Regions from separate parts of the Homo sapiens genome. Here all the other regions are reported to be linked to region 3. The links are microRNA targets in miRTarBase. Many come from high-throughput screens and were not tested one by one. Region 3 holds a microRNA gene; each other region holds the end of a gene's coding sequence.
Evidence for each region. The annotated mature microRNA hsa-miR-1205 reads UCUGCAGGGUUUGCUUUGAG and lies in region 3 at 3,343-3,362, shown strand. An mRNA with a match to its seed (bases 2 to 7 or 8) in the 3' UTR can be bound and repressed. Matches are read on the target gene's strand: a 7mer-m8 pairs with bases 2 to 8, a 7mer-A1 pairs with bases 2 to 7 and ends in A, and an 8mer does both.

Region 1: miRTarBase lists TENT5B as a target of hsa-miR-1205. Seed matches in the 3' UTR shown: 7mer-m8 at 4,067-4,073.
Region 2: the mRNA of SLC7A1 is a reported target of hsa-miR-1205. Seed matches in the 3' UTR shown: 7mer-m8 at 882-888 and 8mer at 4,658-4,665.
Region 4: the mRNA of MRS2 is a reported target of hsa-miR-1205. Seed matches in the 3' UTR shown: 7mer-A1 at 3,207-3,213 and 7mer-A1 at 2,198-2,204.
Region 5: miRTarBase lists POLR2E as a target of hsa-miR-1205. Seed matches in the 3' UTR shown: 7mer-m8 at 3,734-3,740.
Region 6: miRTarBase lists PKM as a target of hsa-miR-1205. Seed matches in the 3' UTR shown: 7mer-m8 at 1,022-1,028.

The regions. Positions count from the first base shown.
Region 1 is chr1:27,001,463-27,006,527 of GRCh38, forward strand. It overlaps TENT5B (terminal nucleotidyltransferase 5B), which reads right to left. Exons shown (of 2, transcript NM_052943.4): 2 at 3,558-5,065. The coding sequence ends at 4,482. Among named protein-coding and RNA genes, the nearest start is that of TENT5B, 8.9 kb to the right of the region's middle. RefSeq lists enhancers at 334-937, 655-814, 2,365-3,009, 4,298-4,941, 4,942-5,065.
Region 2 is chr13:29,510,149-29,515,219 of GRCh38, reverse strand. It overlaps SLC7A1 (solute carrier family 7 member 1), which reads left to right. Exons shown (of 13, transcript NM_003045.5): 13 at 637-5,071. The coding sequence ends at 740. Among named protein-coding and RNA genes, the nearest start is that of MTUS2-AS1, 25 kb to the right of the region's middle.
Region 3 is chr8:127,957,298-127,962,368 of GRCh38, forward strand. It overlaps MIR1205 (microRNA 1205), which reads left to right and starts at 3,336; the gene lies at 3,336-3,398. All of the region lies in intron 3 of PVT1 (Pvt1 oncogene), which reads left to right. RefSeq lists enhancers at 52-863, 2,712-3,687 and a cis regulatory region at 3,094-3,205.
Region 4 is chr6:24,423,125-24,428,195 of GRCh38, reverse strand. MRS2 (magnesium transporter MRS2) reads right to left here. Exons shown (of 11, transcript NM_020662.4): 11 at 2,006-4,612. The coding sequence ends at 4,502. It overlaps GPLD1 (glycosylphosphatidylinositol specific phospholipase D1), which reads left to right. Exons shown (of 25, transcript NM_001503.4): 25 at 1-2,364. Among named protein-coding and RNA genes, the nearest start is that of MRS2, 23 kb to the right of the region's middle.
Region 5 is chr19:1,084,949-1,090,019 of GRCh38, forward strand. POLR2E (RNA polymerase II, I and III subunit E) reads right to left here. Exons shown (of 8, transcript NM_002695.5): 6 at 4,936-5,014; 7 at 4,524-4,603; 8 at 1,626-3,772. The coding sequence ends at 4,538. ARHGAP45 (Rho GTPase activating protein 45) reads left to right here. Exons shown (of 23, transcript NM_012292.5): 23 at 712-1,680. The coding sequence ends at 1,058. Among named protein-coding and RNA genes, the nearest start is that of POLR2E, 7.9 kb to the right of the region's middle. RefSeq lists enhancers at 942-1,441, 4,008-4,107.
Region 6 is chr15:72,195,091-72,200,161 of GRCh38, reverse strand. It overlaps PKM (pyruvate kinase M1/2), which reads left to right. Exons shown (of 11, transcript NM_002654.6): 11 at 406-1,133. The coding sequence ends at 512. GRAMD2A (GRAM domain containing 2A) reads left to right here and starts at 2,375. Exons shown (of 12, transcript NM_001012642.3): 1 at 2,375-2,431. The coding sequence starts at 2,391. RefSeq lists a silencer at 2,228-2,647 and an enhancer at 2,758-2,937.

The DNA of each region.
Region 1 (5,065 bases), not on the chromosome of region 3:
GGGAGGCCGAGGCAGGCAGATCACCTGAGGTCAGGAGTTTGAGACCAGTGTGGCCAACATGGCGAAACCCCATCCTATTAAAAATACAAAAATTAGCCAGGCGTTGTTGTGTGCACCTGTAGTCCAAGCTCCTTGGGAGGCTGAGGCATGAGAGTGGCTTGAACCTGGGAGGCGGAGGTTGCAGTGAGCTGAGATCGCGTCACTGCATGCCAGCCTGGGTGAGTGCTCTCCCCCCTCCACCCAAAAAAAAAAATGTAATGGGATGGTTCAGCAATCTGGGGCCAGCAACAGTGAGAAGCCTTTGCAACTCCTGAGTCTGAGGGTGAGGAGAGGTCACTGTGTGGAGTGGGGCCCCTGACAAGAACCGTGACCTTTGGTTGAGAGATGTGGCCAACCATGGCAACCTGGTAGAGAGGGAACAAAGAGAATAAATATCTACTCCTCCCTTAAGTCTCCTTAAGACGCTGGGATGTCTCATTGGCAACCCAACAGGAAGCCGGGGAACAAGGGAGCCATTGATGCAGTCCACAGATGCCAGCCCCCAGGGAACAGAGCAGAAGTGTGGCGAGTGAAAGCGGAAGGGCAGCATATCATGTAACTGTCTGAGGCTATGCCTTGTTCCTCAAAGTCCACAGCAACGCTCCTTCCCCATCCGGAGCTCCCACAACCCTCGGGTCTGAAGGGGTGGGTGGACTGTTGCTTGGAGAGCACAGTAAGGTTGGAAGGTAGAGGACAGGGCTTTTCCCTCTCAGCCTTTGCATTGCTGGCTCTGAGTCCCAGTTCCTGATTCCTGCCTGTCCTGGTGTCTTAGGTAGCTGCAGGAACTGTCCACAGGAGGAACCATGTCAGCCACTGAGTCGGTGTTTTTCTCACACTCAGAAACGCTGCACCACTCCCAAACAAAACCACAGGCGTGCTGCTGCCATCATGAGCCCTGGACAGTCATCACAAGCCATAATTACTGTCACATGTATATCAAGAAAACATACATCTTGGCCAGGTGTGGTGGCTCACGCCTGTAATCCCAGCACTTTGGGAGGCCGAGGTGGGCAGATCACGAGGTCAAGAGTTCGAGACCAGCCTGACCAACATGGTGAAACCCCGTCTCTACTAAAAATACAAAAATTAGCTGGGCATGGTGGTGGGTGCCTGTAATCCCAGCTACTCAGGAGGCTGAGGCAGGAGAATCGCTTGAACACGGGAGGCAGAGGTTACAGTGAGCTGAGATCGCACCGCTGCACTCCAGCCTGGGCGACAGAGCGAGACTCCGTCTCAGAAAAAGAAAAAAAAAATGTACATCTTGCCACACTGCTACACTGTGCCATAGTCACATATAAAATGACAAATGTCACAGTAATGTCAAATTATGCCTTGTCACATACGTACAGGAGACAACTGTCACAATCATGTGAAATCACAGTGCAGGAGCAGGATGGAACAGAGGTTAACAGCAATGGCTCTGGATCCAGACAAACCTCTTTGACCTCTCTGGTCTCAGTTTCTGTCTGCCAAATGGAAATGCTTTCTTTCCCCTTGTGGAGTTGTTGCAAGGATGATTTGGGAGATCATGATTGGGAAGACCTCAGCATAGTGCCTGCTGGAGTGAAGCCCACCAGGAATGGTGGCTGCTACTGTGAATAACTGTCTCACACGCCCCCACTGCCTCAGGCCCATGCGTGTGTGCAGTACCAGCACCTGGACGAGGCCTGCCAGACACCCTCAGGTACATGTGCCACAGTGCATGCACATTCACAGGCAAGCTCTCTGCCTGGAATGCTCTTTCTCTAAACATCTTCATGCCCACCTCCCACCACCTTTATGTCTTTGTTCAATCAAATATCACCTTTCAATGAGTTGCACCTGACTTTTTTTTTTTTTTTTTTTTGAGATGGAGTCTCGCTCTGTTGTCCAGGCTGGAGTGCAGTGGTATGATCTCAGCTCACTGCAACCTCTGCCTCCCAGGTTCAAGCGATTCTCCTGCCTCAGCCTCCCGACCAGCTGGAATTACAGGCACACGCCACCATACCCAGCTAATTTTTGTATTTTTAGTAGAGATGGGGTTTCACCATGTTGGCCAGGTTGATTTTGAACTACTGACCTCAAGTGATCTGCCCACCTCAGCCTCCCAAAGTGCTGGGATTACAGGCATGAGCCACTGCGCCAGGCTCCTGACTTATTTTTCAATTTTCAAAACCCAGCATTTCCAGTCCCTTACCCTGCTATATTTTTACATATCACTGATCATCTAAGACCATACGGTTCGGTTTATTTTCTATCTACTCCGTTAGAATGTAGTCTTCACAAGGACAGGGATTTTGTCTTTTGTTTGCTGATGTATTCCCAGCACCCAGAACGGTGTCTGGCACATGGTGGCTGAATGCAGTGTATACACACATGTACCAAATGGGTTTCTCGCTTTTTCAGCCCTTAACTAAACAAGCACATCCAGGTGAACTCCACCCCCCAGCCCAAAAAGGTAAGTCTGTTGTGTTTACACTGTGAGCCTCTCATGCCAAGGCTGAAATAGCCAACTCAGGAGGTGAGACAAACTTAGTCCTTCCCATGACCATAGTTGGGTGGTCACAGCTGGGATGGGGGTGGGAGCTGGTTTTAGTCACCAAGCAAAGAAAGCCTTTCTGTTCACTTTCCAGCCATTTTGAGCCCAGCAGCACAAGGGACTCAGAGCAGGTGAGGTGGCTGGACTCACCCTGGTGACCTGGGGCCTCCTCTGCAGCATTGTTTTTTCCACCCTGGCCAGAACCATCAAAGTCACCACTTCAGAGGCCCCTAATGAGGCTGAATATGTTAAGGGCTTTGCAATCCCTGGATCAAAGAGTCTGGGCAAACAGCAGGCAGCGTCCAGGCCCATGACTGACTGGCTGATACTCTGAGGGCGCAGCATGCTAGGAACTTGCGGCTGACACTCCTAGACAGCCTGGCATGGCCCCATGTGGGTTTGGGAAGGGGAGACCCTCCCCATCCAGGGGATCTGATTAGAGCGAGCCAGAGCACACCCATCAGTGCTCGGGGCAAGGGAAGGAGCTGGAGGACTGAGGGAGCCTCTCCCAAATAGAGGCCCTACCTGGGCTCAGGCTTAGGGGGAACCCTACAAGTTCCCCAGTCTCAGCCACCTTTACTGGAGGGGCCTCCAGTCCAGATTCACCCAGCCTGTTCTCTAGCTGCTCCCTTGGAAGAGACGGGGTAGACAGAGCTGGGAACAAGTACCCCTGAGCACCAGAGTCTGAGTCTAGGCCCAGAGCTATTTGGATTCCAGGTAGAAAACATAAAAATATTTACTCCTTAACAAGAGCCCTAGACCTGCTAAGGCAACGTGCAGGTCACACATGTAGACAGCAGCTCTTAATATACAGCTGGTCAGGCTGCGGCTGGGGTTGGGAGAAGGAGGGGCAGTCCCCCAGCCATAGCCCAGGCTTCAAACCCCGCCCCCGCAAATGCTCCCTTCCACAGTACAAGCCAGACTCCAACTGGGGGAGGCAGCTGCAACCCCCACTGCTACGGAAGGTCCTTCTTTCCCCAGAGGAAGCATGGCACTAAGGTTCAGTGTAGACCGTCTTTATTGGCAGGTGTTAAGAGTGCAAAATATCAACAAACCCAGGGGAATACGCAAGGGGGTGGGAGTATGGCTCCCCTACCCCATGTGAGAGCCCTGTAACCAAGCCAGTGGGGTGGGAACGTTGACTTGACTGTGGCAAATTCAGGCTCAGCACCTTCCAAAGAACAAGCTCCCAGGCAGGAGGGCTCCTTGCAACACAAGGGGGAAAGGAGTGGCACCCTGGAAGGGGCCTGGGCTGCGACCCACCCTGGGCTGCTTGGCTCCTGTATACTGCCCACCTCAACCCCTCAAGAGGAAGGCTTCACAGCTGGGGGTATGTAGTTCAGAGAACCGGGCTAAACCCAGCCCTCCCCAAACCCAGGTATCTGCCTCGGGCCTCAGTTTCCCTCCTCCCAGTGATTACCCAAGTTGGCCCATCAGGCCCTGTAGTGGCCCAGCCTGATCCAAAGTGACAAGTCCCTGTAACATACCATGTATCAGTCAGTGTGTGGGCTGCAGGCCCTCCAAAGCTGCTGGGATCACCACAGGCTGGCCTTAGTCAAAAAGACCCTCTTAGACCATGGGAATCAATCCAAGGTGCTGGGCATTAAGGCTACCACCCCAAACTTGCTTTGTCTCCTGAAGGAAATTGACTTCCAAGACAAATGGCGCCTGCACCCCACCGGCATGCTGGTCCAAAAGTGTGATGCAATAACCAAAGGGTCCTCCTGCTGAGAGCCCCAGGCTGGCATTAAGCCCACAGGGGCCTCGTGCTCGGGAAAGTCTGGTCTGTTCAATCAAAGGCCCAACCCTGCAGTGCTGGGCCTCCTGGCACATTCTGCGCCTCTGGTCATGTCCTCCACACACTCTTGGAGGCCCCACCCCACCCCGTGAGGCCCAGTCCCTTCCCTTCTGGCCAGGGTCTGAGTCAGTTACAAGGCAGCCAGGTGGGATAGGCGTGAGCCAGGAGAGGTTGCACGGGGGTCACGTAGTAATTGACAGTGGCTGGCACAACCCCGTCAGTGCCTGGAGGGCGCCAGGCCAGGGCGGCAGTGGCAGCTGGGCCCTGCTCAGCCAGTGCCTGCAGCGCCAGTGCGGCAATGAGGTCCAGCGTCTGGCGGCGCTCGTGGTTCATGAGGCACACGGTGCTCTCGTTGACCACCCGGTGCAGTGTCACCAGGCAGGCGTAACGGCGGGCTGCATCTGCCCCACCGAAGTGGGCCTCCAGGTAGCGCTCTAGGGTGCGCCGCTGCTCCACCAGGTCTGGAAAGTCGATGAAGAAGCGGGAGCACATGTAGCGCTGCAGGGCGCGCACATCGGTGCTGGGCCGGGGCCGGAAGCCCCGCACCAGGAGGTGGCAGTACTTGAGGAGGCCACCACCTCGGATCTCCTCGGGACTGCGCGTGGCGATGACACGGTGCCGCAGGTGCTCCAGGGCCTCGGTGAAGTCCCCGTACAGGCTTTCGCCTGTGACCGTTGGGTGGAAGGCCTCAGACATGGGAGTGGACGAGC
Region 2 (5,071 bases), not on the chromosome of region 3:
TTCCTGGGCTGTGGGTGGCTGAGTCCTTGCTTTAAGGCCTGTTTTCCTGTGTCAGCCACACAAGGTGGCCCCAGCCCCTGGGCAGGTGGTAAGAAGCATAGGTCCTGGACCCACCCTGGAGTCCCGTGTGCAGGAACAGGCTGTGGACTCCTATGTGAAGTCCATTCCTGGGGCTCAGTGTCTCCTGCAGTCTGACGCTCAGTTATGTGGAGAAATGGGCAGTGGGACTGTCCAGGCTGAGAGCCTGGAGACCTCCAGCACCTGCGGGAAACCCCATCTCCATAGTGCACATTCTCGATACTCTCGTGGCCTCCGGGGGCATCAGGGGGCTAAGCTGAAGGACCCGATGGCCTCTGGTGGCCCTGGCCCAGCTGCTCTGTCTGCTCAGGAAACACCGCAGCATAAGGCCGTCCAGAGGAACGTAGGGCTTTGCCAGATGTCGAAGCAGACAGTGGCCTTCGTGTGGCAGCTGCTCCAGATGTGGAAAGGTCACAGGGGCCGCTGGCTGCGGGCTCATGCCAGGCAGGGGCAGGCCGCCTGAGAGGGTTTGCTGTGGGACCGCCCTGGGCTCTGAGCCCTGCCTGCGGTGGTGCAACCGGCGGTCTGTTCACGCCCGTCTCTGCTGTCGGCCCGCAGGCTTCATCATCTACTTTGGCTATGGCCTGTGGCACAGCGAGGAGGCGTCCCTGGATGCCGACCAAGCAAGGACTCCTGACGGCAACTTGGACCAGTGCAAGTGACGCACAGCCCCGCCCCCCGGAGGTGGCAGCAGCCCCGAGGGACGCCCCCAGAGGACCGGGAGGCACCCCACCCTCCCCACCAGTGCAACAGAAACCACCTGCGTCCACACCCTCACTGCAGCCAAAGGTGCAATTACTTGACCTGCAGCCCCAGCCCACCCTCGGCTCTGCAGCCGGTTCTCCGGGCCCTGGTCACCTCCAGACAGCTGCCTGGCCGGGGCCACTAGGCTGCGGCTGGCCACTGTGTCTCCTCACTTCTCTGAACAAAGCAGTTCCTCCCCTACCAGCTCAGCCCCGAGCTGCCGCAGCCTCAGGCAGAACGGAGGTCACCTTCTCTCCTTATCTTGGGAACCAGGCCTTCCTCCCGGGGACTGTTCTGGGATTGAAATTGTGCATACTCCAAACTTTCGCAGCCATCTTCCCGCTCAGCCCCAGACACCCAGCAATCAAGCCAGATGAGTACCACAAAACAGTGTGTCCCCAGCAGCTCCCCACCCCAGAGCCAAATGACAGTAGTGCACTTAAAAAGGAAAATCAGGCCTGTTGTCCTTCTCCGGTTGCATTCAGATGGGTCATTAGGGCCGGACCCTGCCTGCCCCTTGGCTTCTCAGGGCTTTGCTCTGACACCATGACAGCTGCCCGGGGCTGAGGGCAGCTGGCTCCACTCAAATGAGGAAGAAGGGATCACTCCCATTAGGGCCTGCTTTGCTTATGCATGTGTGTGCACATGCATGTAAACCAGGGACCTTCAGCTCACGGCCTCCAGGCCTGGGCCAGTTCTTGCTGCTCCTGCCGTCTCCCCCGACTGGCTGTGTCCTGAGTAACTGGAACATGAGACAGTATCTGCAGGACTGGCCCCATGGTGGCCGAGTCAGAAGTCTGTTTCCTGTGAGTCGCCACCGTTCACTCAGTCTTGCCCTCCCATGCTTTGGAGCCAGTCTGGTGGCTCCTGTAAGGTTCTCAAGGCTGGTGGCAGCTCAGTCTGGGGTCAGGACATGTCGGGGTCATGCGTTTCTGGCCCTGACATAAGCTGTCTGGCCTCTCTGTGACATGATGAAATTGAAATCAATCCACAGTCCATGAAATTGTGACACTCCACCAGATTAAGTTAGGGCATAACATTAACTTGGAAATGGCCATGTCATCACCCCTGCGGCTGTCCTATAGCTGAGATGCGTGGGTCGCAGGGGAGGTGATTTCTAGGCATATTGCTGTCCCTTTTGTGTATCTGTCATCCGGATGCTTCGGACCCCACGCCTCTGCAAGTGGGAGAGACCCGAGCATCCTCCCCACCCCCATAGCTCCAGTGCACGCCACCCCCGTCTTGCCTGGGTCGGGGCCTGCGGCCAGCACCATTTCACACACACTCCTTGTAGATGGGAGCCAGAGGAAACCTGAACGTGGGTGGAGCGTTCCACTGAGTCTACTTCAGGAGACAGAAGGCCCATGCTGATGGGGGAGGAGGAGGGATGTGGGCATTTTGGACACCAGGGGAAATGGAAATGCTGCTTTCAAAACTTAGTTTCCTTTCCATTTCTTCCTAGTCTGGCCTTTGACACAAATCTGGTAGAAAGAAGCCTGATAAATTGAGGGCACTTGTACCCTCCCTGTGCCCCCAGAAGGTTCTTGGAGAGAAGTGCAAGAATTTGTGAACACGGCGGTGGAGGGCGGGTGGATGGCCATGGGCTGAGCCTCCGTATCAGGCCTGCTCACCTTGCTGGGAGCTTTATTCTGATCTCATTTTGAATGTTCCAGAGGGAGCATCATAAGAGCCCAGAGCTCCGATTTCCAAAGAGTGATATTGACATTTATGGAGATTGGTGTTGTAACATATTTTGATAAATACTAACTTATTTTGTTGGGGTTTTGGTTGTCTCTTGTCTTAGGACCTGGTAGTTATTTGCTTGATTTTTTTTTCCGTTATTTTCTACATAGGCAAAGAGAATTCGAGGGATAGACAGTCTCCAAGAAAAGTGAAGTGGTGGGAGAGAATTGCTTTTTTCTTTTTTTTCTTTTCTCTAGTTTTTCTTTCTGGCTGAGATTTCCGTGCAAGACAGCACCCAATAGACTATTTAGAGTTGACATTTGACATTTTAATGGGCGCCATGGCTCATTTTGTAGATTGAGAAGGTGCGTCTCCCCTGCTCCAAGTCTCATCATGACAGCGTGCTGACAGCTGGGAGTCTGTGGCCTTCCTCACGCAGAGGCCTTAAAGCTGGACACAGAAGCACGCCTAGGCTGGGCAGGGATGGGACCCATGCCCCCTCCTTAGAGGACGGGCTTCCTGGTTAGGAAAGGACACGTGGGGGTGCCTTGCATAATAGTTCACTGGTCACCGTGCTTTTATGAGTAGTGTTTTTGTGCACTTGCCAGGGGTTTTCTCTCTGTGTGAGAGGGGAGTGATTTAAGCAATGGTGTCTGGAGTAAGCCTTACAATTTTAATAGACTTTTTCTTATCATATCCCTCATTTCTTTCCCTGAAATAAAAATACACACAAGCAAAAAAAAAATGATAGTTTCACATCTCTTAGTTCCCTTGCCCAAACAAGAATATTCTTAGTTCCACTGGCCAGGATTTTCCTACATAGTCAGAACTTACACATTACTAGAGGCACACCCACCAAGGAGTATTGTGTCTACTTTTATCTGTGCACCAGCCACAAATACCCACATTGGAAAGACCCATTTGTGATGGGTAAACATCCCTTCCTGTCTCCCACAACCCCTGTGACTGCCCTGCATGTGTTCATGACCTCCGAAGGCCCAAATTCATGAAGCAGCAAACCCAGCAGATCTCCACCCCCCTGCCTCAGGACCTCTGCTGAAGAGGGGGATGAAGTGGGTCTCCAGGGAGGCAGTGGGGGCCTTGTTGGCAGCTGGCTCGGGAGCCGGCTTACAGGAGGGCAGCTCTGCAGTTGGGAGGGGCACCGTCCGGAGGAGACCAGGCCTCTACACACCCCCCACTCTACTTATCATCCCTGCTCACACACCCTTGTCCAAGGCTTTATGCATCGGATTTATTTTTCCAAATCAAGAGGACAGTGATAGATGCATTTTCCCCAGGCTGTCTCAGAAAGGTCGCTAAATGTATACTGTTGTCAGAATTGCTGAGATCTCCCCCCACTTTTGGTTTTTGCAGCAGTAAAAACTCTTTCCACTGTGACTTATTTTCTCTCTCAGGCAGCCAGCCACCTGGTCCCTTGTGCTGACTCTAGCACAGTGGCCAGGATCCAATACGAGTCCAGGGGTGACCGCAGGATGGTGGGGGCAGCGGGCTTCTCCACCTACCCCAGCCACCAAGGCCCTGACGCACTGCCTCCTGCACCTTCAGCACATCCCTGTGCACAGCTGGAAGGGTGCATGGCCCGCTCACCTTTGTTCAGATGGGTGGAAACGCTGATGATACCAGCTCCTCCCTGCCGTGCCCCTGCCACGGAGCAGGCATTGTGAACTGGCTGGTGTTTGCAGTCCCACGTGGCATGGCCTCCAGCCCAACCCACAGTGGAGACTGGAGACAGGGCAATGAGTCTGGTGGGGGGCACGTGGACATGCCCCATAGGGGCCCCACCCAGACTTAACAGGCAAGGTCCTGGGCATTGCGCGACGCAGGACTCAATGCTAAAGCAAGCCTGCCTGGCTCTGTGCCAGGGCCCCTCTTCTGATTCACACATCCCATTTTTACACAGACCCTTCCTTCTTAATAAAGGCTGACAGTTCTGTTGGCAGCCAAGAACCCACACCATGAAGACAGGGAGTGAGGGGCCTTTGTGCCCAACTCCAGCACAGCTGCGTTCTGGGGTGTGTGAGAGGCATGTTCGTGTCTGTGCGCTGGTGGTCTCGTGAGACAGTTCCGAGGACGGGGAAATTGCAGGGTGGTGGGGGCGTGAGGCTTATATGTGGAACTGATGCAGAGTTCGCCTGCAGACGGATCTGGATATACACTATGTATAATTGTTACGTGTAATTTAAAATATATCTGTTTGCCATCGTCATGAGAAGATTATATGTAAGGCTCTGAAGGGAGAGGGAGATGTACATTCTGCCAGGCTCCTGGGGACCTTATCCGAGTCATGAAATTGATTACTGTTGATCCAGTGGTGCAAGAAGCTACACTCCATGTGTCATCACGCTTATGACTCCTAATGTATTTTTAAGGCAAAAAATGTCAGCCGACTCCATCTTCACCCCTCGATTCCTCGAGTCCAGCCTTTCTGTGCCAGTGCTTCACTGAGCCACAACGCTCTCGCCATCGGGACCCGGCTGGGCCTGGAGTCTCGGGGCACAGTTGCCATGGAGCCCTCCTGGGTCATTCTACAAATGTGCTGAGTGCC
Region 3 (5,071 bases):
GTGGCTCATGCCTGTAATTCCAGCACTATGCGAGACCGAGGTGGGCAGATCACGAGGTCAAGAGATCAAGACCATCCTGGCCAACATGGTGAAACCCCATCTCTATTAAAAACACAAAAATTAGCTGAGTGTGGTGGTGCAAGCCTGTACCGTGCAGCTACTCAGGAGGCTGAGGCAGGAGAATCACTTGAACCCAGGAGGTGGAGGTTGCAGTGAGCCGAGATTGCGCCACTGCACTCCAGCCTGGTGACAGAGCGAGACTCCGTCTCAAAAAAAAAAAAAAAAAAAAGAAAAGAAAAGAAAAAAAAGTCTTCTGCAGGCCATGGGGGACATGGTCTTCATTTTATAGGTGAACAGACTGAGATACAGGAGGAGTCACTTGCCTAGGGCCAAACAGCTCGTTCCTCTTCAGGCCTTCCCGGTCCTGGGAGCGAGTGTTTCTCTTTGCCTTGGGAGGCTTTGCAGCTTGTGCTGCGCAGCTGATAGCACTGCAACCCCTGAACATGCACACACACACAAGGTGCACACAGGCATGCGCATGGCGGGGAGGTGTGGGTGCACTTTCCAGCTTCCCTGCCGTGCCTCGTTCTGCAGGGCAAGGCCGAGAAACAGCGGGCAGCCTGTGTGATATGGGGACAGACATGTTCTCAGATCTTGGCCATGGTTTCTAATTCCCTGGCACCAGAAGCCCTGCTGGGTGATCAAAGCTGAGTGCCCCTAACAGAAAGCAGAGAGGCACATGGGAATGACAGGTGGTGAGGTGAAGGGAACACGGGCGTGGCATCAAACAGGATGGACAGAGTGGTTGGTTGGCTGATCTAAGTGTGGAGGAGGTTGTAAACTATTCATTTAAATGAATATATTTATTCAGCACCTACTATACCAACCTTAGAAAACTTCATACTTTCTGTTTTTTTCTCTTCTTTTTTTGTTTTTCTTTTCTTTTCTTTCTTTTTTTTTGAGACAGAGTCTGGCTGTGTCGCCCAGGCAGGAGTGCAGTGGCGCGATATCCACTCACTGCAACCTCCGCCTCCTGGGTTCAAGTGATTGTCCTGCCTCAGCCCCCCGAGTAGGTGAGACTACAGGTGCACACCGCCATGCCCAGTTAATTTTTTGTATTTTATTGGAGCTGGGGTTTCACCGTGTTGCCCAGGCTGGTCTCGAACTCCTGAGCTCAGGCATCCGCCTGCTTTGGCCTCCCAAAGTGCTGGGATTACAGGCATGAGCCACCATGCCCGGCCCATGCTTTCTGTTTTATTTGATCCCCTTTTTGGGGAAGACAGGGCAGGTTGAAAGGTCTGCTTTCCAGGGGAGGAAACTGAGGCTCAGAGAGGAGAAAGTCAGGCGCCAGAGGTAGATGAGAGCCAGGATTTGACCCAGTGATTTAGGATTCCAAGTCCAAGGCTCAAAGTGTGACTTGACAGCTGCAATCTGGGATCTGGATGTGTGCCTTCTGTGGCTCGGTGACTCCAGAATTTTTCCAACATCTGGTTGTACGGAATAACAATAGTAGCACGAATGATCCCATAGCTGACAGCCACGGGAGCCATGTGCCAGGCCTGGTTCTAAGCACATGTCATATTTGAACTCACAGAGTCCTCCTAGCTCACTGTGAAGTGGATACTATCGAAGGGGAGTCTTAAGGGTTTCAGTCAGTTGTCACGGTCACAGCACCAAGATGGGAACCCAGCAGGTGGCCTGGGTCCTCATGGTTTGCTGCTGTTCTGTGCTGCCCCTTAGCGGGGTGGGGTGGGGTGGGGTAGGTGGGCTCAGGCCTGCAGAGCTTCTGTGTGGCTCTAAGGGAGAAAGAGCAGAAGGGAGATTTGGGATGTCTTCTGAGTGCTAGCCACGTGAGTGCATTTTACCAAGCGAACTGATGACTATCAGTCCCCTGATTGCTTCCTGTCTTATGTTTTTATCTTATCCACGCATTTAGTGGGCATTTATAAAGGAATTCTGGTATTCTAAATATTCTACACTCTGGGGATATAAAAGTTAAAAGACCCAGGCTGGGCGCGGTGGCTCACGCCTGTAATCCCAACACTTTGGGAGGCCAAGGCGGGCGGATTACGAGGTCAAGAGATCGAGATCAGCCTGGCCAACATGGTGAAAACCCATCTCTACTAAAAATACAAAAATTAGCTGCACGTGGTGGCACGTGCCTATAGTCCCAGCTACTCGGTAGGCTAAGGCAAGAGAATCGCTTGAACCCGGGAGGCAGAGGTTGCAGTTAGCCGAGATGGCGCCACTCTACTCCAGCCTGGCAACAGCGCGAGACTCTGTCTCAGGAAAAAAAAAAAAAAAAAAAAAAAAGACCCAGTGCCTACCCTTAAAGGAGCTCTTCTTATTGAAACTCTTTAAGGAAAGGAGGCAGGAAACAGACATCTTTAATGGGCCAGAGGCTGATTTAGGCTGTTCAGACATTGTTAAGCTGCTCAGCATCTGAAGTTCAAAGAGGCTGAGAACAAACCGGTTAGGAAATGGCAGAAGGGGGTTGGGACCTAGGTGAGCAGCCCGTCAGGAGCCCCTGGGTGGCTTGCACTCCTAGCCCCAAGTGCAATATACAGGTGAGGCGCCTGCAGAATTTTCATTAGGCTGAGTTCATTTCTGGAAGCAGGGAATTGGCATCCACTTAACCATCCCTAATGCCTGCCTTTTCATGTATGTCTGCACTTACTTCTGGCCTTCCCCGGATGCAGTATGTGATTCCTGGAAGGGGTCTCCTGTACGTCGTAGTTTTGTCATCTTCAGGCAACCCAGGATGACATGATTTCTGGAAATTTCCCTGATTTCTTTCTGCTTCACTCTCCCTCTTTTGCTAGAAGGGATCGGCTTAGGCAGCCATTGTGGTGTTCATTCAACATGTCCAGTACAGCCTGTTACTGCAGTTTCCAAGTTGGAGGGTCCGTGAGTCTACTCCCTTTTTTGAACAGAGGGGTACATGGGGAAGCTGAGCCTCTGATGAATGGGTTGATTTGTCCCAGGTCACACAGCTTGAGGGTGGCAGAAGCCAGATCTCAGGTCACAGAGTGGCTCTCCTCCATTTGCCTCCCTGGTCTTGCCTCCTGGAGGCCTGTAGATAGGAGACACCCTTCCTGGAAAGACAACAGCTTGGGGACATTACAGATAAGGCTGGGCGGGTGTGCCTAGCTAGCCCAGAATAAAAGGATCACCGAGAGAAGTTAGGAATCGACCTTCCTTGAGGTGGGTTCTGCAGATAAAGATGCTTTTGAAGTTCAGTTGGTGGGAGATAGGATCTTTGTGGCCTTCTGGATGGATGCACCACGATAGGGAAATCAGCAAGCTGAAGATAGGGAAAGTGAACACTTATCACTGAAGGCCTCTGCAGGGTTTGCTTTGAGGTACTTCCTTCCTGTCAACCCTGTTCTGGAGTCTGTCTCCATTTTTCAGACACAAAAACTGAGGCATAGATAACTGTTTTCTGTTTTTTGTGGGGAGAGAGTATTATTGTTTCAATTTCCTGGACACTTCAAAACATAGGGTATTTCTCATTATGCAATAGTTTAATTGAGCACATACTGCAGGCCAGGCATGGTGCTGCATGCATTCTGGAAGTACAGGAATGAGTTGGAAGTGCTCTTTTTCCTTAGAGATTTTTTGTTCTCTTGTGTGTGTGTTTGGGGGTGGGGGGGGCGGGCGGGCACGAATAGGGGAGGAATTTAGATGAGAAATCAGATAATCACAGCCAAGGTGCCTGCCTGGGGACACAGGGTGCCATAGGCACACAGAAGGGCCCAGGGTGTGGACTTAGGGTGGTCAGGGGAAGGAAGGAGTTTGCCCAGAGAAGAGGCAGGAGGGAGACAGGAAAGGTAAGCAGAGGCCAGATCCTAGAAAGACCATTTTGACTTTGTGCTGAGGGCGATGGTCTCATGATGCAGATTTTAAGCAGAGGTGAGAGAGGGAGAGATTAGCATTTCAGAAAGCATGGCCTCTGCCATAGGAAGACAAGATCAGAGGGAGGTCCAAGCTGGTGGCCAGTGGTGACGGGGCCTGAGCTGGAGGAGACAGGGATGCACTGGAGACCCAAGAGAGAAGTCCCTGAACGCGGTGCACGAAGAGCCTCTGGGGTTACAGGAAGGAAGGGGTAAAATGTTCTTTTCTGTGTCCAGCTTAGGCCACTGAATAGATTCGGTGCTGTGTGTTGTACTAGGAAATGCGGAGGTGATGGGGATTGTTTGGGCTGGAGTCTGGAGGGGCTGTGCCCCACCCCAAGCTGGGTGAGCATCTAAGGTAAGTGAGGGCTGTGCCCAAGACTGCATGAGCAAATCCAGGTTCTCCTACCAGCAAGCTGCCTTGAAGACTCTGAGGCTGGAAATGTATAACCTTGTCCGTACCACTGAGCACCTGTTACCCATACACATTACTGTTCTCCAAACCACGGAACAACTTGAAGGATTGTTTTGCCAGACTAAAAAGTGAAGAAAGCACTGGTTTCCTTCCATGGTGTTCCTCTTTAAACCACACCTTCTCAACCTTGTTTAGGGAGTGGGGATGGCCTTCAGGAGCTCCAGAGGCCCCCCCTGCCCGAGTCTGACTCCTGGTTTCTGGCTTCAACAATGACTAACCTGTAACTTCACATTTTGGTCTATAAAGTGGGTAGAAATGTAGCACCTCTGCATTCTCCAGGTTTGTTGTGAGGACGAAGGAGATAATGAATGTAGAATTTTTTTTTTTGAGACGGAGTCTCGCTCTGTCGCCTAGGCTGGAGTGCAGTGGCGCGATCTCGCCTCACTGCAACCTCCGCCTCTGGGGTTCAAGCGATTCTCCTGCCTCAGCCTCCCAAGTAGCTGGGCCTGCAGGGGCACTCCCAGCTAATTTTTATATTTTCAGTACAGACGGGGTTTCACCATGTTGGCCAGGATGGTCTCAATCTCTTGATCTCGTGATCCACCTGCCTTGGCCTCCCAAAGTGCTGGGATTACAGGCGTGAGCCACCGCTCCCGGCCATGAATGTAGAATTCTGAGCCCAGGGCTGGCTCACTGGGAGTGGGCCACACATTTAGGGGGTTGTTGTTGTACACATGATCATCGGTGGCACTGCTTTGCAGCC
Region 4 (5,071 bases), not on the chromosome of region 3:
AATAGAAAGCATAGTATACAGAAAAAAAAAAAAAAAAGAAACTGAGGGAGGAAAAATAGTACAGAGTAAAGCATGGGGGTGAGGGATAACCTCACATTCCAAATCACTTGTGACTTAGTCCTTTTTAACTTTTATTTTAGGTTCAGTGGTACATGTGAAGGTTTTATCTTTTCTGTTCCTCCCACCTTCCCCACTCAAGTAGACCCCAGTGTGTGTTGTTTTGTGTTCATAAGTTCTTTTAACTTAGCACCCACTTGTGAGAACATGCTATACTTGGTATTTGGTTTTCTGTTCCTGGTCGTGTGTTAGTTTGCTAAGGATGATAGTCCTTTTTTTTTTTTTTTTTTTTTGAGACGGAGTCTTGCTCTGTTGCCCAGGCTGGAGTGCAGTGATGTGATCTCAGCTCACTGCAACCTCCGCCTCCCAGGTTCAAGTGATTCTCCTGTCTCAGCCTCCCAGGCAGCTGGGACTACAGGTGCACAATACTACGCCCGGCTAATTTTTGTATTTTTAGTAGAGACAGGGTTTCACCATGTTGGCCAGGCTGGTCTCGAACTCCTGATCTCAGGTGATCCACCCACCTTGACCTCCCAAAGTGCTGGGATTACATGTGTGAGCCACAGGACCTGGCCGATAATCCTTTCTTAATGAGGATTAATACCTTTTCAATGTTTATATAGTGAAGGACAAATATAAAAACCAAGACTATCACCCTTCTGTGCCCTCCAATACTTTTGTAGAGTTGGCTGTTCTAACACCTAAAGAGCCTAGCGACACTGCTAGTTTTAAGCCATCTCATGAGGGACCTTTGTCGCATTAGGTTACAACTTGTGCCAAAAGAACTAGAGGGAAAAGATGTGGCCTGAGCCACACGCTACTGTAAGGGCCGGAGAGGAAAGCAGGCCTTGGCCTCGCTTGTTCCTGGGCTGTTTTTCGTAGGATGGATTTCATTTGTCAGTCCTGCAGCGTGGCACACTTAAGGGAATGGAATGTATCATAGGGTTTCAGTTTCAGTAAACATTAGCGGGCATTATCTGTAAACAGTAACTAGTTTATTTTGTGTTAAATTGGGAAGAACCTCTTTCTTCTGCCACGGGTGAGATGATACTAAAAGCAGGAGAAAATAACAAATGAGAAGAGCCCTTCTCTTCTCAGCTTCTCTCAAGAGTAGAGACTGGTGAAAAGGGGACAGGAAGAGGAATCCAGCTGAAGAGTGGAAAGTTAACAAGAACATCAAGAGGTACATCCCTAGAGAGCATCTCTGGGTCACTCCCAGGATGACCTCATTTTTCTGGAAGAGGTACATGTGCTAGCTGCATAGTAACCTATGGCACAGCAAAAGCACAAGGAAGCGCCATTTGGTTTTGTTTAGGGACAATTATTGGTAGCCCAACCTATCTGAAGAATTACTTTTAATTAAAAGGATGGTTATTTTTAGGGGACCAGAAATTACTTAGTTGTATTCACTTATGAGTTGAGCAGTTAGAGCACTCTGACATCTGACACTTGAGTAAAGGGATGTTTTTCTCAGTACTGGGTCTTTTCATTAGACGGATGCATTTATATAGTGTCAGTTTTTATGCTTCACTAAATGATAAGGCCTCTGTTTAAACATGACCATTATTTACCTCACGATTTATATTTTTCTCAATGCCTGAATACACCCAATAGCAAGCACCAGGTGGAGGTTAAGACCCACAAAAATGGAAGCAAGCTTCAAGTTTATAGGACATTTAACCATACTAACCCCAATGTCAAAAACAATGTAAATTATACTCCTACTGTAAAAGGTCAACTGATATGGCACGTATGTAAAAAACCTGGCATACAGGAAAAAATTAATGCATGACAGTCTAATATATTATCCTGATACATGGATTAAATTTTCTTTCCACTAAGTATTAACTATAGTTTTAAGCATTGATTCTGCTTAATAACTAAAATGTAAAGACCTTACCTTGTAGGGTTGTAATTTCTCATTAACAGAAATCTGAACTTATACAAGTTTAACTGAAATTTATCTTTATTTCAAGATATCAGAAGACATTTACATATTTGCATTTTCTGTCTTGCTACTATCTGCGTATATGTAACAGCTTTTCTCAAGGCTTCAAGATAGGAATTGTTTTATGCCTTTGTATCACAGACCTAAGAGACCAAAATTATTTGAAGATGGAGTGGGGACAAAACTAGGGTCTCTGCAGTCCCTACTCCATGTACCATCCATTAGCTCACCTCTGTAGGTATTACTAAAGTCATGAGAGTTAAATCCAACGTGCAACTTTAATATTGCAATTCCAAAAAATAAAGCTGTATACAACTCTTGGAATAACTCACCAAAATAAATAGCTTTTTAATATAAAATTGGTTAGTGCTGCTTAACAGTCTGTGTTCATGAAGAATAAGGTGTTAATAATTGTGCTCACATTTGTTTAGGAGCCTTCCAAAGACAGTATCACACCTTGACGTGTTCGACACTTGATGTGTTTGACAGGCGATATGATTGCTTACTCACTCACATAACCCAGTGTTTGGTACCTACTTTCAAACAGTAATTAATGTGCTCAGTCCATTTTAGTTCAAAATTTAAAACCAAGGAACTTCATATATTTTTGGCATAAGCTGATTTATTATTTATGAGAACTTTAGTATAAGAAGCATCCTGCAATCACAAAAGTGGAACTAGTTGATATTTTGAAATCATACTTGATTTAACCACCTTCAGAAATTCTATAAAACACTAGCAACTTCCTTTTATCAGACTTATGAGGTAGTTACATTATTTTTCCTTTTATTGACATGATTCATCAAAAAATTATTTTATCCAAGCTCATAAACTAAGTCAATAAAACTGCAAGGAAAAATGACAAAAATTCTATCTTATGCCTGATCTTAGTCAAATCAAATGTTGCCCTCTGGGATTCCAATTCTTCATGTCACAGTTAAGTAGTACTTATTATGTATTTTACAGTGATACGACCCAAAATAGCAGCAGTGTGCTCTGAGGTGTGCCAAAAGTGTGCCCTGTGAAATATAAGTATTATCAAATACAATCTTAAAAATCCTAAGAGATTCGTAATGCTAGAGGGTGCTGTATGTTCACATTCCGACAAGAACACCATGACGCGTGTTCCTGACCCACAGTGTGGTGGCACAGGGGCCACTGCGTGCTCGAGTCTAGCCCAGCCTGTCCTGTTCCATTCTGTTCTGCAGCTTCCCTCTAATGGCTTCCCATGACCACACACAGGAGTGGGGAAACCTTACTTGTACTTCATCGGTTTTCTTCCAAATCAGCGACGGGAGTAACATTTTTATTCCTATCACCAAACCACCTGAAAAATGGACTCCTAAACTTCCTCATATGACATCACATTAGGCTAATCATGTACCCTCAATATCATCAGGGTAAGTGTATTTATTCTGTTATTATTACATTTGTAGTGCAAGAGCTGGACACTCTAGAATCTTCCATGCACACTACTTTGGGAGGCTTAACAAATGTTCTAGTGCCTAACTGTACTTAACCTCCAGAAAATATTTTAAAAGGTAGGTAGGATGTTAAAGAGGATGGCAGCTTTCAGGCTTACAAATATTAGCCATTTGTTTTAAACCCAAATCTCTGTGGAAATGAGAAGATATCACAGTTCTAACATTTATTCATCCTCATGTTTTAGGAAGCTCATCTGTCAGCTTCTGAGGTGTAGGCATATAGATTAGCAGGACAATAAACATTTTTCTTTTTGGGGCAGGGCAGGGGTGGTATCTAAATATCTACTTTAAAAATCAATAAATGGACAAAGTGCTACAAAACAGTAACAGAATGGAAATACTTCCTTTCAACTTTGCTTCCAAAGGCTCTAATTACAGAGAGCAAAGAAAACTAGTCTCAGGGGCTGAGAACGTGAAATCTTGATTAGGAATCCATACAATGGTGATATTAAATTATTTCTTTTTATTCACCTTTTATAAAAAAAAGGGGGCAAATACAAGAAATAAGGTTATGTCAAAGTTTGGTTTTTAAAGCTCAAACTTACAGAGTCTGTTGTAAGGTTAATACATAGAATGCTAGCTTTTTAGTCACCTGAGAATCAGGAAATTCACATGAACATAATTCCCTATACTGACAAAGAACTATAGCTACCTATGGGCTTGTCAAGTTCCTACGCTTCATTCAGCATGAAATTGCACTTTTCTTGATATGTATAAATTAAAATCTATGCAACTGTCTGTGCTTGTGTTGCCTCATATCACATCTATAAAAACAGCATTTAAAGTTTGTAGGAAATAGAATTTTGGCCTTTTACAAAGCAAATACTTTGTTTCTTTAACTCAGAATTCTGGAAATGCAATCCAGTTCTGGTATTGTGACTGCCAAAATATTTTTGTCTTCAAACATTAGTTTTTTTCAAGTGTCTGACTCTATACAAGAAAATAATAAAAAGAGTATCAGAAGTTTCCTGTAACTACCATAAAAAAAACTTCAGTATCCACGGGGCTGTTCCTAACGGTTTGTTAGGATGCTCCTTCCTGATCCAAGTCCATCCAGTCTGAGGCTATTTTTCAATTCCATGCTTCTATCTGCCAGAAGAGTCTTTTTAGGTAAAGAAGCCATCTAAATAAAGCAGAAGTATTAATTTTAGTATCTTTTTTAAAAGAAAAGCCACTAGTAAAATGATGTATTATGTAACTACTCAGTGAAGAAAGGACTATAAGCAGTATCAGTGTCTTAAGTATTTATTCCAGTGGTGCCATCTTCAAGTACAAAGAAAATGGAGGTGAATTTTCTATCTTTTAAGAACGTTATAAATGTTTCCTACATTTCCATTTGGTTATGACAAACCTTATACCAGAATTACTAACATCTGTTTAAATGTATGTTGTCAGAGTTCTACACAAATTATATTTCTAACTTATTGTGTTAGGCAGTGTGCTAGTAAGTGCTTTACACATATTGTTTAATTCTTCCCATAACCCTATGAAGCAGGTAATACCGACTTAACTGACAGATAGGGAAACTGAAGGAAGTTTGAGAAAGCAACTCGCAAGGGCCATAGTGCCTGTGACAACTTAA
Region 5 (5,071 bases), not on the chromosome of region 3:
GAGGGCACCTGTAATCCCAGCTACTCAGGAGGCTGAAGCAGGAGAATCACTTGAACCGGGGAGGCAGAGGTTGCACTGAGCCAAGATCATGGCACTGCACTCCAGCCCGGGCAAGAGAGAGAGACTCTGTCTCAAAAAGAAATACCTGAGACTGGGCAATTTACAAAAGAAAGAGGTTTAATGGAGTTACAGTTCCATGTAGCTGGGGAGGCCTCACAATCATGGCAGAAAGCAAAGAGGAGCAAGTCACATCTTGCATGGATGGTGGCAGGCAAAGGGAGAGCTTGTGTCCGGAAACTCCAGTTTTTAGACCATCAGATCTTGTGAAACCCACGTACTATCATGAGAACAGCCCAGGAAAGACGCACCTCCAGGATTCAACCATCCTCCACCAGCTCCCTCCCACAACACGTGGGAATTATGGGAGCTACAAGATGAGGTTTGGGTGGGGACACAGAGCCAGACCCTATCAACACCTCTCTCCTTCCGTTTCTCCCCTTGTCTCTCTCTCCTCCTCCCCGCCATGTCTCTCCATCTGTCTGTCCCTCCCCTTGTCTCTCCTCCATCTCTCCTGTCTCTCCCCATCTCTCCTGTCTCTCCATCTCTCTCCCCCCTCTCCTGTCTCTCCCCATCTCTCCTGTCTGTCCCTCCCCTTGTCTCTCCTCCATCTCTCCTGTCTGTCTCCCCCCGCCATCTGTCTCCCTTTCTTAGAATCCCGAGTTGTGTCCAACGATTCGGACTCGGACCTAGAGGAGGCCTCCGAGCTGCTGTCCTCATCGGAGGCCAGTGCCCTGGGCCACCTCAGCTTCCTGGAGCAGCAGCAGAGCGAGGCCAGCCTAGAGGTGGCTTCTGGCAGCCACAGCGGCAGTGAGGAGCAGCTGGAGGCCACAGCCCGGGAGGACGGGGACGGGGACGAGGACGGCCCGGCCCAGCAGCTCTCAGGATTCAACACCAACCAGTCCAACAACGTGCTGCAGGCCCCACTGCCCCCCATGAGGCTCCGTGGCGGGCGGATGACACTGGGCTCCTGCAGGGAAAGGCAGCCGGAATTCGTGTGAGCTGGGGTGGGGCTGGGACCACAGGTGGCTTCTCTCTTGCCTGCTCCTGTCCCTCCAGCACGTCCCCTGCACCACGGCATAGCTTAGGTGCGCCGTCCTGGGGTCGCTGCCGAGAGCGCCTGGACTTCGACGTCCCACCAGCGGGCGCCTCCTCCCAGAGGCTTCCAGGAGCACGAGGGCCTTGCGGCACAGGACTGTGCCCTGTGCTGTCCCCTGCACCCCGGCTCAGCTGAGCTGGGGAACACTGCTGTCGTGTGAAGTCACAGTGGCCTTGTTGGTGCCCACAGGGCTGTGTGGATGGAGGAAGCTGTCCCTGCCCAGTGCATCCCCCAGGTCATCACGGGGACGCAGGAGGCAGGCCCTGCCCTGCCCTCTCCTCACAGGTCTGTTGCAGGGACTCCAGAAACCATTCTGGGAGCCGTGGATGGGGGCGGAGCTGGGGTTTGGTGCAGTTTCCAGGGTGCAGTACAGCAGGGCCTGAATACTGGCCCTGGACTCCCTTTTCCAGAACACCAGGTGTGGCCACCTGGGGCTCAGGTACACAGTGGGGTCTCTCGGAAGCCACCGTGTGGTTCTTTCACAGGCACGTTTATTTTGCTGAAATAAAAAGTTTTTAATCGGGTGTTTTCTGTGGCAGCTGCAAGCTTAGAAGATTTTCTGTGGCAGCTGCAAGCTTAGAAGAAGGGGCCAGGGAGGGGACAGAGAGAGCCCCGTGGCGTGGCCCTGGGCCTCCCCCTAGGGGAGGGATGTGTGAGGAAGGGAACCCCCCGCCACGGGGCCCCGCGAGGTGGGAGCCCGGGTGGTCTTCACCACAGGCTGTGCAGACGGTCAGGCATCGAATGACCTCGTCACGTCCACCTGCAGCCCAGGGCAGTCCAGGAAAACGTTCTCGATGACGGACGTATCCCCCGGCTCTAAGGTTTCGCACGTCAGCCCCACATGGCCACCAAGCACTGGAAACGTGGCCCATGCGCCTGTGGAACTGCATTTTTTTTTTTTTTTGAGACAGGGTGTGACCCTGTGGCCCAGGCTGGAGTACAGGAGCACAATCGTAGCTCACTGCAGCCTCGGCCTCCTGGGCTCAAATGATCCTCCCGCCTCAGCCTCCCAAAGTGTTGGGATTACAGGTGTGAGCCACTGTGCCCAGGTAATCTTAAAGTTTTTTGTAGAGGTGGGGGGTTTCTCTGTGTTGCCCGGGCTGGTCTTTTAACTCCTGAGCTCAAGCGATCCTCCACTTCCTGGGTTCAAGTGATTCTCCTGCCTTAGCTCCCAAGTAGCTGGGATTACAGGCATGCACCACCACGCCCAGGTAATTTTTGTATTTTTTGCAGTGATGGGATTTTGCCATGTTGGTCAGGCTGGTCTCGAACTCCCGACCTCAGGTGATCCGCCCACCTCGGCCTCCCAAAGTGCTGGGATTACAGGCGTGAGCCACCGCGCCCGGCCACCTCCAGAATTTTCTCATCTTCCCAAACTAAAACTGTGCACATGACACACTCTGTCCCCTCCCTCCTCCCCAGCCCTGGGAACCCCCATCCCCACCCAACTCCCCAGTCCCGGGAACCCCCATCCTACTTCCAGTCTCTGACGACTCTAGTGACCTCCTAGGAGTGACATCAGTGTTTGTCCCTTTGGGTCTGGCTTGCTTTGGCCAAGACAATTTTGAAAAAAGTACATTTGGAGAGAAGGGGAAGCACTGTCCCCATCACACACACAGTCCGCGGCCTGGGGATCTGGGGACCCTGCTGCACAGAACAGTGGGCGCGTTACAGACCACCGACCGCCCGAGGGTGAATTACATCTTAATAAAGCTACTGTGAGAGAACCACGTGGCTAGGTTAAACTTGGGCAGGCGAGGCCTTCTGAAATCAGACAGTAAGCAAACGGGGAAGTAGAGCCAGATCCCAAACGTCTGTAAGAGGAACTGGCCGCAAACCACAGCTGCACAAGCCAGAGAACAACTCCACACCCTCACGGGAAGGGAAGAGACAGACACGCTCACGCCTTACCCAGGAGCACGAAGTGGGAGGGCAGGGCGAGGGCCTGGGGAGACACTGACCCCTGAAGCCAGCGCGAGGAGGGCACACCTGCCAGGCTGACCTCGTGTGCTTGGGGTGAGGCAAGGCCACCTGCTGGAAACCTTGTTAGTCGGCCTGGTTTCTGTATCAAGCAAATTTATTTGCTCAAAACATCTTTACCATTTGAAAACACCCAACCTCCTACAACAACCGAGAACTCCAGAGCTGGCATCTCGCACCCTGGTGGCTTGAGCGCGTGCATGGCTGTGAATGGAGTAAAGAGCCGAGGCCGGGCGGGGGCCGCCACGCATCAGGGCCCCCGAGGGAGGGAAGACGAGGGGTGGAAGGCCGAGGGCCCAGGAGGAAGCAGTGGCTGGTGGGAGACCCGGACCCCAAACCCCCAACAGAGGGGACCCAGCGTGGTCTGGGTGAAGACCCGGCACCAGCTGCCCCCAGGTGACCTCCCTCTGGGGGCCTTGTTCCTTCTGAGGCTGCATCTCGCACAAATCCACAGGTGAATGGGGCGGGCTGGGCCACAGGAAGCCTCACCCCAGGACGGGAGAACGTGGGTGGAGGCCACCTGCCTTGGGGAGTCCAGAGGAGCAGCAGCCGTGAGAGCTGTGGGGGCCGGATTCTGGCAGGGCAGGGGCGTTTGTCCTGCAGGGATGGGGGTCGCTGTGTGTCCGCCTCTAGGGGCTAGGAAAGGGGGAGAGTGGTCACACGACAGGGGCAGATCCAGTATGCCCAGGACAGCACAACGCCCACCGAACGTGACGGGGTGCGGGAGGCCTGGCAGGAGGCGGCCCAGGCCGCAGTGCAGAGGCCGGACGGCTCCCTTGTGCCCAGCGGTCACACAGGCGTGGGCAGTAGCTCTGACCTCAAAGGAACCGTGCCAGCGTCAGACCAGGCCAAGCCCCACCCCTGGGCTGAGTGTGAAGTGGGGCGGCCTGCAGGACAGCAGCTCGCCATGACCAGAGTCCAGGGGAAGCTGGGAGGCTCTCGCCATGGGCAGAGGCTGTCCCGCTCCTGAGACTCCGGCCAGTCCCTCCCAAGGTGCCCACTCAGGGAAGGGTTGGCCTGAAGCTGTGCCTCCTCTCTCAGCTCTGGGGTCTCTGGGCAGGTTTCTAAACCCTCTTCTGGAAAGTCCCGCCGCACAACTGCCCTGCAGGTGAACGTCTCCTGCTTCTAAGGTGGGTCAGCGGCGGAGAGACGCACGCCCCGCGTACCAGGACTCTCCCGTCCAGGCGCACAGCCCCAAGAGCTGCAGCCTACGGTCGGGTGGGGTCTGGGGGTCTGGGGGTGTCCTGGGAGCGCCTGGTGGCCCAGCTGGGCTGGTGCTAGGAGGGTCTTGCTGCCGGACAAAGCAAGAACAGCCCTGCACACCGACGGAGGGGACGACACCCCTGCCTCTGACCCCACCTCAGTGCCTGTCCCTCGGCCGTCTCACCTGTCAGGCGGTAGCTACTGCACCAGCCGGTAGGTGATGTACCTGCCAGCCGTCTCACTGGGCCGGATGATCTTCACCACCTGCAGAGACAGAGAGCAGGGGCTGCGAATGCTTGAGGGGTCTCACTGCAGTCACCAGACAGCAGGCGGGCAGCACACGGGCTGGGGATGGCCGGCAGGGGTCCGAGATGGCTGACCCTGGGCTGTGGGACCCGCTCCCTGGGAACCTGGGTCACGCTCTTCTCTGGGCCCAGTGGCCCTGGCTTTAAGAGGGGGATATTGGGGGTGTGGTCTCGAGGTCCCCTCCAGGCCCTGGATCAAGGGGGAGGGGCTGTCGGGGAGGGACAGAAGCCCCCTTCTCCGAGTGGTCAGCTCAGAGCAGCCCCAGGGCCCCTTCTCCCCACAGGGCTCACCTGCCCACGCTTTATCCCAAAGTAGCGCGCCACAGGGTCCCCCGCCTGGATCCTGGGCAGCTGGTTCTCTCGGAGCTTACTGCGAAGCACCGTCAGGAAAATGCCAGACAGGGCCGTTGGGGGGGCAGGGGTGTGT
Region 6 (5,071 bases), not on the chromosome of region 3:
GAGTTTTTTTTGTTTTTTGTTTTTTTTTTAAATAAAATTGGCCACAGCTCCTGTGCTGTGGGGTGGCATACACAGATTACGTACTGATGTGGCCATTGTCCCTGTATAAGGTAGGGTATCATCAGATGACAGGAAGCAGCTAGCTCTGACCCTGGGCAAGGCTTTGCACCCTCTCCAGGATAGTGAATGATGTCCAAAGGTCCCTGCCAACCCTGCCATCTGAGTGATAAGGACATTTCAGGGCCTTCCTCCTGTTTGCCTGGGCTGTGAGTTTGGTGCCACCTTGTGGTGTGAGGAAGTAGTGGTCAGCCAGCCTAGTTCAGTACTCAGGCTATGGGGCAGCTGCCCAGGTGCAAACCTGCCTGGCTTGGCTTTTACTCACCAACCTCCCTTCTCTTCCTCCAGGCAAGGCCCGAGGCTTCTTCAAGAAGGGAGATGTGGTCATTGTGCTGACCGGATGGCGCCCTGGCTCCGGCTTCACCAACACCATGCGTGTTGTTCCTGTGCCGTGATGGACCCCAGAGCCCCTCCTCCAGCCCCTGTCCCACCCCCTTCCCCCAGCCCATCCATTAGGCCAGCAACGCTTGTAGAACTCACTCTGGGCTGTAACGTGGCACTGGTAGGTTGGGACACCAGGGAAGAAGATCAACGCCTCACTGAAACATGGCTGTGTTTGCAGCCTGCTCTAGTGGGACAGCCCAGAGCCTGGCTGCCCATCATGTGGCCCCACCCAATCAAGGGAAGAAGGAGGAATGCTGGACTGGAGGCCCCTGGAGCCAGATGGCAAGAGGGTGACAGCTTCCTTTCCTGTGTGTACTCTGTCCAGTTCCTTTAGAAAAAATGGATGCCCAGAGGACTCCCAACCCTGGCTTGGGGTCAAGAAACAGCCAGCAAGAGTTAGGGGCCTTAGGGCACTGGGCTGTTGTTCCATTGAAGCCGACTCTGGCCCTGGCCCTTACTTGCTTCTCTAGCTCTCTAGGCCTCTCCAGTTTGCACCTGTCCCCACCCTCCACTCAGCTGTCCTGCAGCAAACACTCCACCCTCCACCTTCCATTTTCCCCCACTACTGCAGCACCTCCAGGCCTGTTGCTATAGAGCCTACCTGTATGTCAATAAACAACAGCTGAAGCACCTGTTTCCTCTCTTTTCTGCTGGGGAGGGGGAGGTGGTTGAACCCTGCCCTCTGAGCAGGCTGGGAATGGCTGCAGCCTCGTGCCCCGCAGTGGGAGCTATGGTGGTGTCACCTGCCATCCTGCCCACCTCCTGGTGCAGAGGCGCTGGGAAAGCAGTAGCTTACTATCTTAGGGTTACAGGTTGCCCCCTTCAGTGCTGCGGGGAGACTTTAATGGCTTACGTGAACCGAAGATGGGAAAGAGCAGGGACAAGGCCTCCCTCCCACTCTGGTAGATAAACCCAAATTGCAAAGTGGCCTTGGCCATGGTTCTTCCACTTTGGTCTTCCTGCATTAGCGTATCCCTTATGGGGGCTGTAGGAGGAGTCAGCTCTGGGCGCCTGAGACTGGGTTTGGCTCCCAGGTCCTCAGTTGTGGACCTAGGCTCCCCTTGGGACCCCTCCTGTTTGCTGGTGCCCTCCCACCATGATGCTGTAGTGCCAAAGGGCTGGGGGAGAGAGTTGGGAATGGGACCAAATCTGGCCTGCGCTTTTCCTCTCCCCTGACCACACTCCCAAGGACCAAGTGTCCTGGTGGGGATGGAAGAGGAAAGGGCCTGCAGGCCAGGCAAAAGCTCATTGTCACACTGAGCGCACGTGCCTCTGCTTCCCTGCCTTTGATTTGTGTCCACCTTCAGCCCCTTTGCAGACTCCTCCAAAAGTGTATTTCCTTGGAGAAACTGCAATGTTAACTCCGGCAAAAGTGCGTGGGAGCATCCTGGCTCCCGGGTTCGTGGTGGTGACTTGGCTGTCAGACCATGGTGTTCAATATCCCCTTTGGTGTTCCCCACTGACGGTAAAATTGAAACTTATCCGGAGCTCTATGTTGGGAAGGGTTAGGTTGGAGAGGGGCCGGAATTGGTTCCTGCAGAGGGACCCAAGCCGCAAGACTAGGACGACAGAAGCGTCCAGAGGGGACACAATACCCTCGACGTGAGGGACAGGAGGTGCCGCGCCAGGCCCTGGCCTCCGGGACCTCCCAGTCCGGGGAACCGAGCGCTAGGATCTGCTCAGAGCTTGGAGCCCCACCTGGGGAAGGTGGGGAAGGAGAGAAGCTGGGGAAGCTGGGGAATGAGGGGGAGGAACGGCCAATGGGCTGTGCCCGGCCCGCGCGACCCGCCAATGGGCGGGCGGGCGGGGCGGGCTCTCGACGGGGCGGGCGGGGTCCGGCGGGCGCTGGGTCCCGGCGCGCGGTCGGGGCGCTGGGTGCAGGCGCCGGGATGACCGCTTTAAGCCGGAGCGAGGCCACCGAGGAGGGCGGGTAAGGGGTTGCGGCCCGGGGGCCGGTCTCGGGGGTTCCGGAGGCCGCCGCGAGGGGCTGCTGCCGCGCGGGGCAGGACGGCTCCTGGGGCCGCGGCAACTCGGCGCGTTCTGCCCACGGGGCAGGCACTTCCCGGCCGCCGGAATGCGGGCTCCGGGCCAGAGCTGCACCGCGCGCCCAGGCGTCTCCCGGGGCCCGCGAGGTGTTCGCACTAGGACCGGGTGTCTTGGCTGAGTCTGCTGCGACCTGGGGGATGAGGGACGGTCCCGGCAGCATCGGGGCAAGGAAGGGCACCCTCCTCGGGACGCCCCGCATGGCCCATCTCCGCCTCGCCACTCTGTTCATCCTTTCATTTATTCATTCATCATTCGTTGCCCGCGGTATCGACTCCCAGTCCTAATTGCCCCCGACCCAAAGGTTGGATTTCCCTGCGTCCCCTGGAGGGCCAGACTGTTTCCTCTCGCCGCCGAATCCGTATTGTAGCGGCCCGCGGCTGCGGGGAGGCAGCTCGGAGCTGTCTCAGCACGACGCGGCCTCCCCCGGGCGCCAGGCCCATCCCGGTCGGGCGGGCTGGGGCCGGTCTCCCGGCCTCGAGACCTGGTCCAAAGTCGCCCTGGGAGAAAGGGATAAGGAGGCAGGGCAGACAGGAGCTGGCGCTGCACGTAACATCCAGAATTGTGGTTTCTGCTGCTTGAGGTCTTAGGGTCCTGGGAGTGACATTGTTTGGGGGAACCTGTCAATTCCTGCCCCGGTCCAGGTTCCAAGCCGCACAGCCTAAGGTCGGGTACAGCCTGGCATCCTCGGCCAGCTAGCACTGGGGCAGGTAGGATGAATGTGTGAGCCTTGTGTCCAAATCAGCCCGAGACACACAGGGATGTGGACCCCAGCGGGACTCCCTCTGCCTTATACTCAGAGGGACTGGTGGGGCTCCACCCCGCTGTCGTCTGTGTCTCTGCTCTGCTTGCCGCCCCACTCACTATGCTTGATTGTTTAAAGGTGCCCCTCCTTGCAGGGGCCAGGCTCCTAGGGAACGAGAGAGGGTACCCTCGCAACCTGATGTCTTCACCCCATGTCCACCTGTAGCCGGCTCTAAAGTCTGGCTCCTTTCAGAGCAAAGACTTATGGCCTTGCTGGGAGAGGTAGAATAGAGGGTGTCTATCCCATTCTTCAGTGAGGAGTCAGTATGCCCCTCCTTCTTTTTTCTTTTTTTTTTTTCTGAGACAGTTTCACTCTGTCACCCAGGCTGGAGTGCCGTGGTGGGATCTTGGCTCACTGCAACCTCTGCCTCCCAGGTTCAAGTGATCCTCCTGCCTCAGCCTCCCGAGTAGCTGGGATTACAGGTGCCCACCACCACGCCCAGCTAATTTTTGTATTTTTAGTAGAGATGGGGTTTCACCATGTTGGCCAGGCTGGTCTTGAACTCCTGACCTCAGGTGATCCACCCACCTCAGCCTCCCAAAGTGCTAGCATTACAGGGACTACAGGTGTGAGCCACGTGCCTGGCCCCCTCCATAGTCTTCTGATCAGGCTGGCTGGAGACCATGCTGCAGACACTCTTAGGTTTAAGTTTTAGTTTGACAGGCATTGAGGTAGCCTCAGTGGGCACCTCTGGGACAAATGGGCAGGTCCAGAGGGGAAAGCTGACAGAGGCCCCATCGAGCTTCCAGGAGAGTTTAGGCTGGGGCCAAATAGAAGTTCTCCTTCCCAACTTCCCCTTGGGAGAATTTTCTGAATAGCCTGAAGAGGGTAGCTCAAGCTCCATCTGTGCCTTGATGTTGCTGGCTGCTTTCAAATTTCTTTCTTTTTTTTTGAGACGGAGTTTTGCTCTTGTTACCCAGGCTGGAGTGCAATGGCGTGATCTCGGCTCACTGCAGTCTCCGCCTCCTGGGTTCAAGTGATTCTCCTGCCTCAGCCTCCCGAGTAGGTGGGATTACAGGCATGCGCCACCACACCCGGCTAATTTTGTATTTTTTAGTAGAGACGGGGTTTCTCCATGTTGGTCAGGCTGGTCTCCAACTCTCGACCTCAGGTGAGCTGCTCACCTCAGCCTCTCAAAGTGCTGGGATTACAGGTGTGAGCCACTGCACCTGGCCTCAAATTTCTAAATTTAGCAAGGCCCCAAAGCTTTGGCACAGACCAGAGAGACTTGTATGCTAATTCATCCACCTAGGGTGCTCCCGTGACCCCCTGAGGTTGAGGTCGGCAGTACCCAAGGTGGGTTGCTGCCAGCTGGCCTCTTGGAAGCTCTCCCATGAGCTGCTGCGCTGTTAGTGCCTCCTGGGTGGCTCCACCCCGCCCCTAACCTGCTTAGGTTCGCTCTGGTCCTTGCCTGCCACGGACCATGTTTATCAGCTGGAGGGAAGAGCCTCACTCTGGAATCAGAAGTGAGTTCTAAGCCTCAGGCTGTTCCTGTTTTGCTGCGACTTGGGACAAGTCACTTCCGCTTTCTGGGCCTGCTTTACACCATAAGGTAAGGAGATTGGACTGTAGGTTCCCTAAAGGCCTTCTGCATGCAGTCATCCAGTGATTCTCCTAACTAGACACTTCTAGCAGCTTCAGGGGAAGTTTGTCTACACTCATGCTACAGTATTTTCAGCAAATGTGATTGGACAAGTGGGCCTGTGCCTTATCTTTTGGTGG